2 separate regions of the Homo sapiens genome follow, and region 1 is linked to region 2. The links come from fine-mapping of genetic effects on gene expression. Tissue or cell type: CD4 T cells. Region 2 holds a variant in brackets; the other region holds the start of a gene. All regions are shown on one strand. Distances are from middle to middle.

What was found. PIP is the estimated chance that this variant, and not a neighbour inherited with it, causes the effect.
Region 1: it holds the start of NPL, and the variant in region 2 is fine-mapped to the expression of NPL in CD4 T cells (BLUEPRINT, PIP 0.95).

Annotation. Positions count from the first base shown.
Region 1 is chr1:182,786,267-182,794,362 of GRCh38, reverse strand. It overlaps NPL (N-acetylneuraminate pyruvate lyase), which reads right to left and starts at 4,590. Exons shown (of 13, transcript NM_030769.3): 1 at 4,558-4,590; 2 at 2,077-2,131; 3 at 1-7. RefSeq lists an enhancer at 4,437-4,937.
Region 2 is chr1:182,315,473-182,323,578 of GRCh38, reverse strand. No RefSeq gene overlaps it. Among named protein-coding and RNA genes, the nearest start is that of LINC01344, 5.5 kb to the right of the region's middle. The variant C/T (reference allele first, on the strand shown) is at 3,614.

The DNA of each region.
Region 1 (8,096 bases), 470 kb before region 2:
GGTAGGTCTGGAAAACATACAATGTAATTTCTCTCTTTCTTCAAGGAATGTCAATGATAAAACTCCCAGGCAAAGTCCATTTCTAGTTTAGAACTGTAAAATGTGCTTACAAGTACACAAACACACAGAGCAAGTACAAGATGGTAAAATTTTAGTGCTTAATTCTATTGAGGAGGAAACTTTAAGACAGGAGAGGGTAGACTTGAGAAAATACTACGTGGACAGTCTCCCATTTTAGCTATACAGATGATGGAAGCAATCTAACACCTCAAAGGATAGAGGTTAACAGCAGCAGACCCAAGAAAGAGCTTGAACCTAACTCAGGTAAGTAAAACATACAGTGAATTATAGTCATGCCTCAGTATACACAGAAGATCAGTTCCAGGACCTTCGTGTATACCAAAATCCATGCCTACTCAAGTCACACAGTCAGCCCCAAGCCTGGCATATGAGAATTCTGCATCCTGCAAATACTGATTTTCTATCCGTATTTGGTTGAAAAAAATCTGTGTAAATGGACCTGCACACTTCAAATCAACGTAATTCAAGGGTCAACTGTACTATTACTTAAACTGAAATATGGTCATAAAAGGGGACATTTTCTCTTTCCATTGTCTTCATTCTTAGAATCTCACCTAAAACAAGCCTGTCTTAAGGTTTCATCATGATTTACATAACTACCTTCAGATTTACCTATCTTTTTATATCCTAATTTTGCCCAGTTTTGTCCAGTTTTCCTAGTTCTAGTTAACCATGTAGACTGCATATTCACCTCCCTCTTCCCCACTACAGCAGGCTCCCAGGACAGGGATGTTTCATTTGCCTTTGCTCTCTGCAGTGAGCCCTCTGCTTGACACCAGGTGTTCAATTCAAGAGCGAAGAATATGTGGGTGACTGAACGAGGTGTTCAGACTGTGACTGGATGATGGCTTCCACAGATGGGTAGCGCACTGCTGGAAGAGTCCAACTCACACCACTCATTTGGGGCCAAAGGATCTCTCACCATCTGGCAGAGAGTGTACCTGCCCATAATCAGTGTAAAAGACTCTGGATGGGCCACAAGAAGCAACAGAGCAGACTGGTTAACAGCCTCAGTTCCATAGGCAGACCACCTGGTTCAACTCACAGCTCTGACATTTGCTAGTTCTAGAAGCATTATTGTTTTTTGAGCTATAAGACATAAAAAGCCACAAATGCAATTTCAGACCACAAATTTAATGTCTAACAATTGAAAATGAAAATAAAATATAATCAGATAGTATTTGATGACAATTCTACAAAAGATAGTGGTCTTGTAGCAAATAAAGTGATGTCTGTAGGTGACCAACAAGAAGGGTTATGCTATAGTTCTGACATTACTGGCACATTCAAAAATGCAATGCCCACTATACTTAAATCTAACCCACATAATGTAGTACTTAGTTATAAGCTATCTTGTTTTGTTTGCTCTTCTAATTGTTCATCTTATCTTCCCAAATAGGAGAATAAACTTCTGAAGTACAGAGACCATATCTTCTATTTTTCTTCCCCAAGAGTCTTGGCTCAGGTAAGCCCTTGAGAAACACTGACTGTTTTCAGTAGAAAGACAACACGATACTTTCCTTGCAAACAGACATGTTCTCAGCAAGAGTTGCTCCTAAAATCAAGACCAAGTCCTGCATGTAGCTTTGCTCTGTATTTCCTAGTTCAAACATGAGACTAAAAGCAGATTGGAAGTTTAGAAAGATGAATCCAATAACCTGGCCCATGGGAAAACACAAGATAATAAATCATAAGATGTGGCTCTAATCACTCTTTGAGCTTCATGTGACCACCCTCAGTACAATAAGCAGGCCACTTAGCCTCTGAGCCTTAAAGGCCCATAACCTAAGCCATCTCCCCACTGGAGGGATGTTTAAGTATCAAAGGAGATTGATGCTATGCCTGCTGTATATCTTCACCTAGCACTCCCACAAACATCTCAACTTAACATGCCCAAAGGGACCTGCCATCTCCTTTGTTCCTTACTGTAGAGGGGTGAGAGGGCCAGCTCTGGAGTCAGACCTCATGGATCTGCATCCTGGCTCCACCACTTACCAGGTAGGTGACCTTGAGCCCATTAAGTAACCTCTTTCTGCTTCAGTTTCCCCTTCTGTAAATGAGGATAATAGTAATTATATTTCATAGGGTTGAGAGAATTAAATGAACTAATTCATGTAAAGTGATTAACAACAATGCTAGGCACATAGTGAGTACGTGTTCAGTGCTCTCCATGAAGTCTTGCCTGATGTGTATAGGACAGTAGAAAATACTATCATGCCCTTACCAGCATCATCTTCCCAGTCATCTCTGCTCTGCTAGTGCCTCCTTTCCAACACTCACTACTCTTGTCTATTTAGGGACTAAGTCATTTCAATTCTGTTATCTTCTTCCCCTGCTATTCCTCCTTTCGCCTTTATAATTTTTCCCTTCGTTACCTCTTATCTAGACAAATAGGCAAAACCCCAGGTCCACAGGGCCCAAGAAGGTTCAAGTGATAAGAGTCCTGAGAGCTTGAGTCAGCATTAAACACCTCCTAAATCCAACACTACTAGGCTGTTCAGGCTAAATAAAACTCCGTAGTCTTGTGCTTTTGCCTGCATTTATTTGATACTAAGGACGGTAACACTGATGTTCTTAGAATCATCAGAAGCTCAAATTGGCAGTTTTATATGTCTTTAATGGAAAGAAATAAAACTAATTACCACAAATGTAGTTTGATTAGTTCAAAAATTCAAAACAAGGGGCCGTTGGGAGTGTAGGATAGGGGTTAGGAATCACTGTCCTAATCCCTCTTCTCTTCTTCAATCCACACCAGCTGTCAGATTAATCTTCCAGTAACACCAGCATTTCTGGTCTTGTCTTTGTCCTGTTTAGAAAATGCCAGTAGGCTAAAGAACCAGCTCCCTGGGGTCTGGGTCTCTATTGAAATCTTCGTGCCTGCACTATACTTGCCCAGCTGAACAAACTGTTTGCTGTTCCTCCTATCTACCTTTCACTGTCTGTCTGCTTGCCTTTGTTCCTGTGGTTCTCTCACTTCAATCTCTTCGGTCTGATCAACTTTTAAAGCTCACTTTATCCATTCCAGCAGGTATAGCTTAAAAACAAAAACAAACAAAAACCAAAAAACCTCTCATTTTAAAAACCAGGGGATTTCCTGATACCCCAGCCGAAAATAATTTCTTAAACCTCAGAATTCCCCCAAACAGTGGCTTTTCATTAAAAACCTTACATCAGAGTTATTAAGCAGGGTGGTTTTGGCTCCTCTCCTAGACTGTCTGCCATCTGGGGGCAATGGCAGCTTGGAAAATTTCTTTGCACAGATAACTACACTACGTAAAAGTTTGCTGCCTTTGCAAACTTTGAAACGCCTACAGGAAGAAATGGGATAAAAACGACTTTGGCCGGGCGCGGTGGCTCAAGCCTGTAATCCCAGCACTTTGGGAGGCCGAGGTGGGCGGATCACCTGAGGTCAGGAGTTCGAGACCAGCCTGGCCAACATGGCCAAACCCCGTCTCTACTAAAAATACAAAATTAGCCGGGCGTGGTGGCGGGAGCCTGTAGTCCCAGCTACTCGGGAGGCTGAGGCAGGAGAATGGCGTGAACCTGGGAGGTGGAGCTTGCAGTGAGCCGAGATAGCGCCACTGCAGTCCGGCCTGGGCGACAAGAGCGAGACTCCGTCTCAAAAACAACAACAACAACAACAACAACAACAACAACAACAACAACAAAAGACTTTAACAGAGAATGATCAGTATTTTTAAGATTCAAGTTTTTAATAAACTTGGGAATGTTATGCTTTGAAGCATAACAGATAATTATCATTATTTTTAAGATTCAAGTTTTAGATAAACTTGGGAATGTTATGCTTTGAAGTTTTCAGAGCTCGTAGCTAAAGCGAATAGCTCAAATGTTCTCCAGCCTAAGGCTTAATGTGAATTTAGATTATTACTGAAACATTGGGAGGGGGTATTACTCTTGAAATCTTATACCTCCATCCACAGATAAGAACACTCAGTGCAAAGAATTAAAGCTGCCTAAGTCAAATTCTTTTTTAAATGGCAAAGTTGTTTTTTTAAGAGACAGAAAGTGAGGGCAGAATGTACCTCTGGGCAGAGAATATCTTGAGGGACAGGTACTCGGAGAAGAGGAGATACAAATAGGGATTTTTAAAAAAGCAGAAAACCACCAATTTCTCCTCAAGTGAAGGGGGGATGTATCAGGTTTAACTTTAAGCTCTCTTCTGCTCAATTGCTAACTCTATTTTGAGGAAAGGACCTTTGGAGACCCGGCAGATATGCTGTCTGCAAACAATCCGGGGGAGTAAGTTCTTCTGCCCCCGTCTGTCCCTACACTTTTCGCATTCACACCTTCCCCAGATCCGTTTCCCAGCGTATCTGCCTTCCCTCTTTCCTCCGGGTCCGTCAACGTCTCACCCACCCGCGAGTCAGGCCCCAGCGCCCCTCCGCCCGAACGCCCAGGTCGTCGGGCCGTCTGCGTCCGTCTGTCCTAGCCCGTGCCGTCGCGGGCCGCGCTCACCCAGGCCTCCGCTCTTGTCCGTGCAGCCGCTCCGCCCGGCAGCCGCCGCCGCGCTTTATATCCGCGGCCGCCCGGCTCGGGCCCACGTGCCGCCACGCCAGGGAGCCTGGGGGTTGTAGTTCTGCGCCGCCGCCCGCGAGGCGCGCCCGGAACCGCTGGCCCGGAAACCCCGAAACGTTTTGCACACTGGAGTCTGCTCTTCCCCGGGTGTCACCTGAACAACATGGGCTGAAGTGACTCCGGCGCAGCGCCCCGGCTCCCCGAGGATCGGAAGCATCCGAACTGGCGGCCGGGTGCCCGAGAGCACGCGGCTCACCCGCGCCACGCCGAGTGCAAACCTCCCCCTGCCTCGTCTGCACGCCAGTCCTTCCCGCGTGCGGGCACCTCCTGGGCTCCGCTGCGTCTTAATTTTCCTTCTCTTGCGCAGGGCTCTGCAATCCCCACTATCTCGTGGTTCTGCGTTGTGAGGTTTGGGCTGCTGTTTCCGAGGCGTACGGAGAATCCCAACTGCCCATCGGCGTTCAGGTCTCTTCGGGTTGACGCCGCTGCACCAGCCCTGCAGACTCTCGTGTTAAAGAGAGATGAGCGAATTTTAAAGTGAATTATCTACTCATACGGGAGCTTTCCTGGCTTCTTTTGGAGAACATTTGAAAGAGTTTTGAAAGGGAAAATTATTTTTAACCCAACCGCCTCTACTTTCAGGAGTATCAGGAGTCTTATTCTAGGATCATGTACTGTGTGAATAAATCAGGAACAGAGCCAGAGACAAGTCCTCAGTTTTCTCTTGCTGATGTGATTCCACCTCAATTTTCCATAAAAGGCGATGGCTGATGCTTATTATTACATTTAGAGAAACTAAATTGTTCAAAGGGCTTTCTAGTTTGCAAAGTGCTTTTAAATGTATTCTAATAGTTCTTTCGTTGCACAGAGCACCAGAGATAATAGCTAATAAGTACTGTGTTCAGTGCTTACTCAGCCTGCACCGTTCTAGCTGTTTTAACATTTAATTCATAAAATAATCCCATTGGTGGGTCCTGTTTTATAAATGTATATATTACAGATGAGCAAGGATCATTCCATTTTACAGATCAGAAACAGGTTTAAAGAGTTGAAGTAATTTGCCAAAAGCCATAGAGCTGGTTAAGCTGTGGTTTGATTTCAAGTAGTCCAGAAGCTTGTGCTTTTAACACTATGTTATCCTACAGGAAAAAAAAATACAAAAAGAAAAGAAAAAGAAAAACCCTTAGTTACATGAAGCAAGTTCTCCTAAGGCTGCAGCATGGTTTTTGTTTTGGTTTGGTTTTTGTAATATTAACAAGAATATTATATCCTAATGGTACAATGAAAGTTTTTTTTTTTTTTGGAAAGTCACAGTTTAATAAGTGCAAAATTAAGTATGTCAGTACCCAAAAGGTATAGGTCATTAGGCTTAACATTGTCAACCAACAAACCAATATTCTAAATGCATGAACTAACTACTTTTTGTATAAATATGGTAGTGCAAAGTAATTCCTTATAATAATTTGTTAGTGTCTACCAAGAAGCAGATGCTAAGATGGGATTAGATGTGCAAGAAACTTACTGGGGGAGGGATTTGGAGCAGACAGGAGCAGCCTGCAGACTGATGTAGGGCTGACATCTGTGGAACAAAAGATGGAAGAAAGGAGCATGGAGTAGGGAGAGTCTCACTGCATTCTTACAGTATCCACTCTGTGCCGTTATGAAACTCAGAGCCTATACTGTGAAGTGTTGGGGAGACGTTGTTTTAAAATATGGTAAATGCAGTGATAGACTGTACAGAGATATTACAGGAACACTGAGCTCTAATCTGGGCTGAAGGGGGTGGTGTGTGTGTGTGTGTGTGTGTGTGTGTGTGTGAAGAGGCAGGAGGGTGTTCCAGAAACGTCTTACTGGGGAAGGTCACAGCCAAGCTAAATATCAGACAATGAGTAGGGCTTAGAAGAAGAGAGGCAACAAAAGGCTCAGTGCTGAACTGCAGGCCTCTAACCCCCTTCTGATAAGCGGCAGTCTCTGTGAGATTTCTTCTATTATTATGTAGTATTATTTAATCATTAATTTTCTTGCTTTTGTTTCTTGCCCCCAACTCCACTGCAAGGTGTTCAAGGCAGGCATCATGTCCTATTCCTTTGTTTTTCCCACAGTGCAGGACATAGTGTCTATCCAAGTGCAGGCCAAGAGGGTGAGATTTAGAAATATTACTACCATCAACTCTTCTTTGTTTAAAACAAATGTATGTCAGGGTTTTGTATCAGATTTTGTTTGCTACAATTCAAATTTGAAACCCACTGGTGCAGGGGAAAGAGCTTGGGAGATATGGTGCAATGAACTTGGTCAGAACAGTCATATGTTCTATCCTTGGAGCTGGAGGTGATGCCCCCATCACAGGCTCCTGAACTGACTGTGGGTGAGGGGTGGTCCCCCAGAAAGTTTCCCCTTATCTTCTGGTAAGGCTATACTAACCTGAAAAGAGAAAATGGGTTTTCAACAACTGAAACACTGCTAAATTGCGGAACACTTATGAAGGAAGGAGACCTAAGTTGGATCTTGAAGTGTTGTTACCCATTGTGTTCCAGTAAAAGGTCTGTCCACAGGTGGACAAGAGTCTGTTCCATTCACTGTGAAGAATGCGTAACCGGGTATGAGAGTCACTTCTGGAAATTCTGGCTTGTATGGGTGTGTCAATGGGGCTGATGGAAAAGGTAGGGTTTATTTTTTCATCAGAGTCCAGAGGTCTTCAGAGAAGGGAACAGGCCACGAATAGAAGTTGAACTGATTGCTGGCCCTGAGACAAAAACCCTTGTCCTTTAGGGTTTATCTTCTGAGCGTGAGTGCTAACTAGGAGAGGGACATCTCTTGAGAAGGGAAAAGTCCTGTGCATAAGCTTGGGTTCAGAAGATCCTTTGGGATCCCAGGAGGGGGCAGCATAGTGCGGCCATGCTCAGCTGTCTTTTGGCTTAGCCCTTTAGTGAATGCTTACTGGGTTCTTAAGGAGAAAGAGCTAGAAGGAAAAAAATGAGTTGAACACAAGAGATATACTTCCATATTTGGCATTCTTAAACCTAAGATCTGTGACTCCAGATTTTTAAGTAACGACTTTATTGACATATATTTCACTATGATACAATTCATTTAAGTGTATAATAGTTCAGTAGTTTAGTCTATTCACAGAATTGTGCAACTTGTGTCACCATTTTAGAACATTTTCATCACTCCCTCCAATAAAACCCTAGCCATTAGTAGTCACTCATTTTTCTATTTCCCCCTCCCCACCCCCAGCCATAAGCAGCCACCAATCTATTTCTTTCTTTCTTCTTACTTTTTTTTTTGGTTGCCCAGGCTGGAGTGCAATGATGCAATCTTGGCTCACCACAACCTCTGGCTCCCAGGTGATTCTCCTGCCTCAGCCTCTGGAGTAGCTGGGATTACAGGCATGCGCCACCATGCCAGGCTAATTTTGTATTTTTAGTAGAGGCGGGGTATCTCCATGTTGGTCAGGCTGGTCTCAAACTCCCAACCTC
Region 2 (8,106 bases):
GGTAGGAAATAAGTGCCCTTCAGGGTTGCTCTAGAATTAAACAAGATGGCCCATGGAAAGAACTGCCGGGGAGGTGCCCAATCAATGTCGCTTTCGTCTAGATTTCTTTGTGTGAAAGAACTGACTAGAAGAAAATACCCCACGGCAATCAATACTTTTTCCCAAAGCATTAGAATAAATGTAGAAATTTTTCACTTAAAGTCTTATTTGTGGTGGCCAGGCGCAATGGCTCACGCCTGTAATCCCAGCACTTTAGGAGGCTGATGCGGGCGGACCACTTGAGGTCAGGAGTTCGAGACCAGCCTGGCCAACATGGTGACACCCCATTTCTACGAAAAACACAAGAATTAGCCAGGCGTGGTGATGCACACCTGTAATCCCAGCTACTGAGGACGCTGAGGCAGGAGAATCACTTGAACCCGAGAGGCAGAGGTTGCAGTGAGCCAAGATTGCACCATTGCACTCCAGCCAGGGCAACAGAGTGAGACGCCGTCTCAAATAATAAAATAAAATCTTATTTGTGGAAAACGTAAGCCTAGGGATATTCCTAGGGTCAGAGAGTGGGCAGATTTAAAATTTTTTTAAAAAGCTGTAATATTTTCTACAGATGGGATCACACTATGTTGCCCAGGCTGGTCTTAAACTCCTGGCGTCAGGTGATCCTCCCACTTTGGCCTCCCAAAGTGCTGGGATTACAGGCGTGAGCCACCATGCCTGACCCAAAGAGTGGGTGGATTTTGGAGGCAACTGGACTTGAGGATCTTTTTCCAGCAAATACTAGAACAGATCATCTGAGAGATGAATGTTGGCCCTCATCCCACTACACCTTCTGAGGGATATTCTGCAAGCACCCACATGTCTGACTCTGTCTCACAGTCCTTATATTATTGAGAGTCCTTTCTGTTATCTTACTTAAAGTTTCTTGTGCTTCAGCATAAGTCATGCTCTCTTTTCATAGCAAGGGAGCACTGCTACAAAATGGACATTTTAACTACATAGTAACATCCTGTTTCATCTGAAGCTCTGTCGCTCCTTCATTTGCCTGGTTTAGAAGTTATGATACTGTAATGTGGAATGCTGGGCCTAGGCCAGACCTCTTCATTCACATGAGGAAACTGAGGCTCAGAGAAGTCCATTACCTAGCTATGATTCTACAGCCAGTATGGCACAAGAGCTGAGTTAGAACTCAAGTTTTCTGAGTCCAAATTTAGAGTTTTTTTTCTCTTCCCTTTCACCGAAGGGCTCCTTTTACTGGTCACATGTCTGGAATGACCCAGGACCTTTCATATGTCTCTAAGAGCCAATGTCAGATGTTTTATCCTGGGAGTCAGAAGACCCAAAAGTCCCAGTCTTAAGCCTCTTCAGAATTGCTCCTCTGGGCTGGGGCGTGGTGGCTCATGCCTGTAATCCTATTTTGGTAAGTCAAGGCTGGGGGATTGCTTGAAGCCAGGACTTTGAGACAAGCCTGGGCAACAGAGGGAAACCCAGTCTCTACCAAAAAAAAAAAAGGATTTTTTCCAAGGAGAATGACAGCAGAGCTTTTGTTTATGTGCTTTTTAGGGATAACAGATACCATTGGTGAAGCAGGAATGTCTTTTGCAAACTGGGACCTTTGCATGAGAAGATTCAATTAGAGATAGATAGATAGATAGATATAAAAATGTAATAATATGTATTGTAATTATATATGTATAAATTATGTAATATAATAACATATATTTTACATTTTTGAATATATGTATTTTGGGGATAAGGTAAGAATCATAACTTCCACCGATTTTTTTTTTTTTTGAGATGGAGTCTCCCTCTGTCGGCCAGGTTGGAGTACAGTGGCACAATCTCAGCTCACTGCAACCTCCACCTCCCGGGTTCAAGCGATTCTCCTGCCTCAGCCTCTTGAGTAGCTGGAATTACAGGCGCCCACCATCATGCCCAGCTAATTTTTGTATTTTTAATAGAGACAGTGTTTCACCACGTTGGTCAGGCTGGCCTTGAACTGCTGACCTCAGGTGATCCACCTGCCTTGGCCTCCCAAAGTGCTGGGATAACAGGCATGAGCCACCGTGCCCAGCCACTTCCACTGATTTTTTAAAAAGGGGTCTAGGACGTGAAAAAGTCTGAATCATTCATTCATTATTCATTCATTCAACAATTTTTTTTTGAATGCTTATTTTATGGAAGGCACTCTACTAGGGCCAGGTAATGTAATGGAAATATGGAAATAAAATACACATGTTCCTACCCTCATAGCACTTACATTCTAGTGAGAGAACTAAATGATAAACAATAAACAAATAACACACAAAATGTCACCTTAGGACAGACTGCAAAAAAAAAAAATAAGCTAAGAATTACTGATCTGACTATACTTTGTATTTCTCTCTGGATTTTATATTTTTCACTTTCCTTCTGAGAAAGTCAAATTTCTCTAAAAACATACCCAATTTAACTTCTCAGTTATAATTTAAAGGATAGTTAAGTCTCTAAGTCCTCCAAACCTCCACTTCAATGGTTTTTTTTGTTTGTTTGTTTGTTTGTTTTGAGACAGAGTCTCATTCTGTTGCCCAGGCTGGAGTGCAGTGGCATCATGTCGGCTCACTGCAACCTCCGTCTCCTGGGTTCAAGCAATTCTCCTGCCTCAGCCTCACAAGTAGCTGGGATTACAGGCACCCACCACGATGCCCAGCTAATTTTTGTATTTTTAGTAGAGATGGGGGTTTCACCATGTTGGCCAGGCTGGTCTTGAACTCCTGACCTCAGGTGATCTGCCCACCTCTGCCTCCCAAAGTGTTGGGATTACAGGCGTGAGCCGCCACACCTGGCAATGGGGTTGTTTTATCCACCAGGCTATTGAATAGATGAATGCTGCTTTCCTCCCTGCCTTGCAGCCAGGCAGGCAGGATCATTCCAGGTCTCTAGAAATGACAGGTCTGTTTGCCCAGCATGAGCAATGTGGTTTCCCATTGCAGAATCTCCCTCCCGGTAGATTGCAGCTGCTGCTTGTGCAAGACTGAATGATCTGAAAGACTCAGAAAAACAGACCACCAAGATGTACCAGTGAATTTTTAAGATTTGTGGGCCGGGCGCGGTGGCTCACGCCTGTAATCCCAGCACTTTGGGAGGCCGAGGCGGGCGAATCACGAGGTCAGGAGATCGAGACCATCCCGGCTAAAACGGTGAAACCCCGTCTCTACTAAAAATACAAAAAATTAGCCGGGCGTAGTGGCGGGCGCCTGTAGTCCCAGCTACCTGGGAGGCTGAGGCAGGAGAATGGCATGAACCCGGGAGGCGGAGCTTGCAGTGAGCCGAGATCCCGCCACTGCACTCCAGCCTGGGCGACAGAGCGAGACTCCGCCTCAAAAAAAAAAAAAAAAAAAAAAAGATTTGTGAACTGTCAGGATATTGTTCAAAATTGTATCAGAGATTAAATCTTTGCTTATTGCTAAGTGAATTTTTCATATGTGCATATCTGTTTTATTCAAATGCAAGTGATTTACACAAACCCCCATCTGCAATCCTTAAGACACTCACAGAATGATGCAGTGTTAGGTAACTAGAATTGTGTCTATTTTTTTGTTGTTGTTGCCTCCCCTGCCATACCTTTTTTTTGAGA[C/T]GGAGTCTGTCTGTCACCAGGTTGGAGTGCAGTGGTGCAATCTCGGCTCACTGCAGCCCCTGCCATCCAGGTTCTACAGGTTCTCGTGCCTCAGCCTCCCGAGTAGCTGGGACTATAGGCGCACACCACCATGCCTGGCTAATTTTTGTATTTTTAGTAGAGATGGTGTTTCACCATGTTGGCAGGCTGTTCTCGAACTCGTGACCTCAAGTGATCCATTCGCCTCAGCCTCCCAAAGTGCTGGGATTACAGGTGTGAGCCACTGCACCTGGCCATCGTACCTGTTTTCGAACTGGTTGTTCTAAATTCATCTATGTGAGTGGGCAGTAAAAAGAAGGGGTGACCTGTCAAAAGTCTTACAACTCAAAGAAAACAAAAAATAAATAAAACAAAGAAAATAAAGTCCTACAACTCAATGGCAAAGGTGAAATTCAAATCTAAGACATGATTTCTAGATCTCTGCTCTCCAGGCACGAGATTAGATCCGACAGCCTGACTCAGATTACACCTGTTATGTGCATACGATATTATCAGAATGCTGTGGGGCTCCAGCCTATTAGAATTTTCTGTTTTAGCTGGGAGTGGAGACTCACGCCCCTCAGCATTTTCGAGGCTGAGGTGGGAGGATCTCTTGAGCCTAGGTAGTCTAGGGTGCAGTGAACTATATGACAGTGCCACTATACTCCAGCTTGGGTGACAGAATGGGACCCAGTCTCTAAAAAAAAAAAATTAAATTTAAAATCAAATTTTCTGTCCGGTGCTGTGGCTGCTCACGCCTGTAATCCCAGCACTTTGGGAGGCCACAGTGACAGGATCGCTTGAGCCCAGGAGTACAAGACCAGCCTGGGCAGCCTAGTGAGACCCCATCTCTCCCCGCCAAAAATAAAATATTTGCTGGGCATGGGAATGTGTACCTGTAGTCCTAGCTACTTAAGAGGCTGAGGAGGGAGGATCGCTTGAGTCTGGGAGTTCGAGGCTACAGTGAGTTGTGATCACACCACTGCACTCTAGCCTGGGCGACAGAGTGAGATCCTGTCTCTTTGGTTTGTTGTTATTGTTGTTGTTTTCTTTTGAGACAGAGTCTCTTTGTCAACACTGTCTCTTAAAAAAAATTTTTTTTCTTGTCCTTACTAGTTTTAGGGAAGTTGTCACGCCATTGACTGAAAGGCCAGTTCTGATTTAGAAAAAAATAAACCTTTTCAATTAAATATGAAGATGTAGTTGTAACACTTTGGTCCCAAAACACAAGTAAATGACACTTAAAAGATGTTGGTGAAGGGCATGGACATCACTTGGAAAGTGAGTCATGTAAGGTTAGCAATGAGATACCATCAGGTTCCCAGGTGAGTGTCTGAAGTCCCACTGGTTGTCCAAAGAGGGTCTGAATTGGTTTGAACTCAGCTGTTGACTTCTCTTTTTCATAACCTTTCTCCCTACATCCATCTTCACTGAGATTCTCCCTGCCATTTCTTAATATATTGGATTTGATGAGGAGATGACATTCCCTTCCTCTGAGAGTCTCTTTGGAGACAGGCTTCAGGTCATGGTATTCCAGCATTTAGGCTACATGGCAGCCCTCCAGTGAAGGCATTGGAAAGTGTCAGAAAAGGAAATGGGCCTGAACTGGAGAGACAGTCCAGCTTCCTTCCCAAGGAGCCATCGGATATTTATAGAGAGCCAGGCCTAGGATGTATGCCCATTGCTGAGAAGGTTTTGTGGCCCGATCTGGTATACATTAGAGGCTCTATCTTTCCATCTCCTCAGTTCATGAAGCGTTGATTCCTGGCCTAGGAGAGACTGAAAGCCAAACCAAACAGGGGATTTTTCTTCCTTCATAGTTATTGTGAGCCAGCCAATTCCAGGATTTAAGCTCAGGCTTGTTAGGCTTTAGTCCTTCTGGGAAATGCCATCTGTTCAGAGAATGGCTTTCTGGGCAGCACAAGTGCTATTAATTCTATTCTAGTGTAGTTGCTGAATGGCAAGGCTCATATTATCCTTCACCCTGGGGGCAGGGAGAAAGGGTTAGGATCAGGCATTTGCCACCATTAAATCCACCCTCTTTTTTGTACGGTCTGCCTGTTGCCCCAGTTCACTGCCACACCCTCACCCCACACATACACAACAGACCTCTCCTTTAGTTTTCAAGCCACTAGGCAATTGAAATGTTTGTGTGAATTTTCACATAAAGTCTAGTCTTTGTGTCAAATGTGCAATAAGCCTCAACATTTGCATAGAGCAAACAAGGAAGTCTTGTTAGGAAATTTGTTCCTTAGGAGCTTATGTCTTAAATTGGACTGGTGCCTTTTGTTGTCACAGTTGTTTTTATAATGACATGCACATAGGTTTGCCTTTCTGAATTCTTATGTTGAATCTACTGTTGGTTGGCACCTGCCACTAGCATAAATTTCTACTCTTTCAATCAGTGGGACAAATTCACATGCCAGTCGAGGCTGATTCACCTGTTTAGGGCTGTGAGTGATTTGAAGAGGACTACCTTCTCAGCACTTCTTTGGCCCAGAGTCACAGGAACCCTCTTCTCAAGAATGTGGTCCTGGTAAGAGAACTTGCAAAATACTTACAGATTTCAGGAGTCCACAGTCCCAGGCAGAAGGAGAAGAGATATATCTGCTGGTTTGAAATCCTGGAGACAAATTTTTGTCCAATGCCCAGGAAAATTGGTTTTCTGACCAAAGACTCAGGGAGACTGGAAACTCTTGGGATGTGGATGACAGAGGAAGGGGTTAGGGATGGAGAAGGGAGTAGAGATGCATGTGTTCGGGACAGAATCAAAGACAGCATTCTTGATTTCTCTCTCCTTCTTACTCTTCATAATCTATTAGCAGGCCCTGTCAGTCCCACTTTCAGATCATGTCCTTGATGTCATTCACATCTCCCTACCTTCACTATCATCACCCTAGCCAAGCCTCTGCCATCTCTCACCTGGTCAACCCCAATACCTCCTCTGACTAGTTTCTGTGTATCTTCTCTTGCTGCATTCTAATTCATTCTCCATGTAGAAGACAGGGAAATCTTTTGCAATTGCAAATTAGATCACAAGGCTTTCCTGCTGGCATCCCTTGGGCCACTCTCCTTTGTTCCTGGAATTCCATCAAGCCACCTACCATGGCCTACAGAGTCCCCGGTGTTCTGGCTCCTGCTCACCTCTTTTAAGTCTTCTCATTCCTCTCTCCCACAGCCACACTGCTCCAGTCACATGGCCTCCACTCTATTTCTGGCCAAGCATTTCGGTTTTTTGTTTGTCGTCTTCTTTTTCTTCTTCTCCTTCTCCTTCTTCTCCTTCTCCTTCTCCTTTCTTTTCCTCTTCTTCTTCTTCCTCTTCTTCTTCTTCTTCTTCTTCTTCTTCTTCTTCTTCTTCTTCTTCTTCTTCTTCTTCTTCTTCTTCTTCTTTTCTTCTTCTTTTCTTCTTCTTTTCTTCTTCTTTTCTTCTTCTTCTTCTTTTCTTCTTCTTCTTTCTTCTTCTTTTCTTCTTCCTCTTCCTCTTCTTCTTCCTCTTCTTCCTCCTCTTCCTCTACCTCTTCTTCTTCTCTTCTTCTGCTTCTGCTTCTTTCTTTCTTTTTTTAATAGGGAGTCACTCTGTTGCCTAGGCTGGAGTGCAGTGCAGTGTCCCAATCACAGCTTACAGCAGCCTCAACCTCCCAGGCTCAAGAGATCCTGCCACCTCAGCCTCCTGAGTAGCTGGGACCACAGGTGTGTACCATCACACCCGGCTAATTTTAAAATTTTTTCTAGAGACAGGGTTTCACCATGTTACCCAGGCTGGTCTTGAACTCCTGACTTCAAGCAATCCACCTGCCTGGGCCTCCCAAAGTTCTGGGATTATAGGCATGAGCTACTATGCCCAGCCTAATATGGATCATTTTAAGCCCTCCTTAATGTGCATTAAATACTGTACTTGTGTTCGGGCATGGTGGTTCATACCTGTAATCCCAGCACTTTGGGAGGCTGAGGCAGGAGGATTGCTTGAGCCCAGGAGTTCGAGACCAGCCTAGGCAACATGGGGAAACCCTGTCTCTGCCAAAAATACAAAAAAAAAAAAAAATTAGCCAGGCATGGTGGCATGCGCCTGTAGTCCCACCTACTTGGGAGGATGGTTTGAACCTGGGAGGTGGAGGTTGTGGTCAACCGAGATGGCACCACTGCACTCCAGTCTGGGTGACAGAGCCAAACTCTGTCTCAAAAAAAAAAAAAAAACAACTATACTTGTTTACTGAATGATTGTTTATTTGCCTCCACTTACCCTTTGAAATTTACCAAAGATAAGTGACTAGGATTATCAACCATTCTTTATTTCCCTGTTCCATCTGTTTTGAGTTAGGAGAAAGACAAAGCAAAATGCAATCTCACCAACAGCAATATCAACAAAAGAAATCCCTTGAGCCATCTAGCCCCTAGCAGCTAGACAAGGAAGGCAAATTGGGATTAGGAAGAAGTGGGTAACCCGGAACGGCCACAGTAGGGATAAGCAGCTTCAG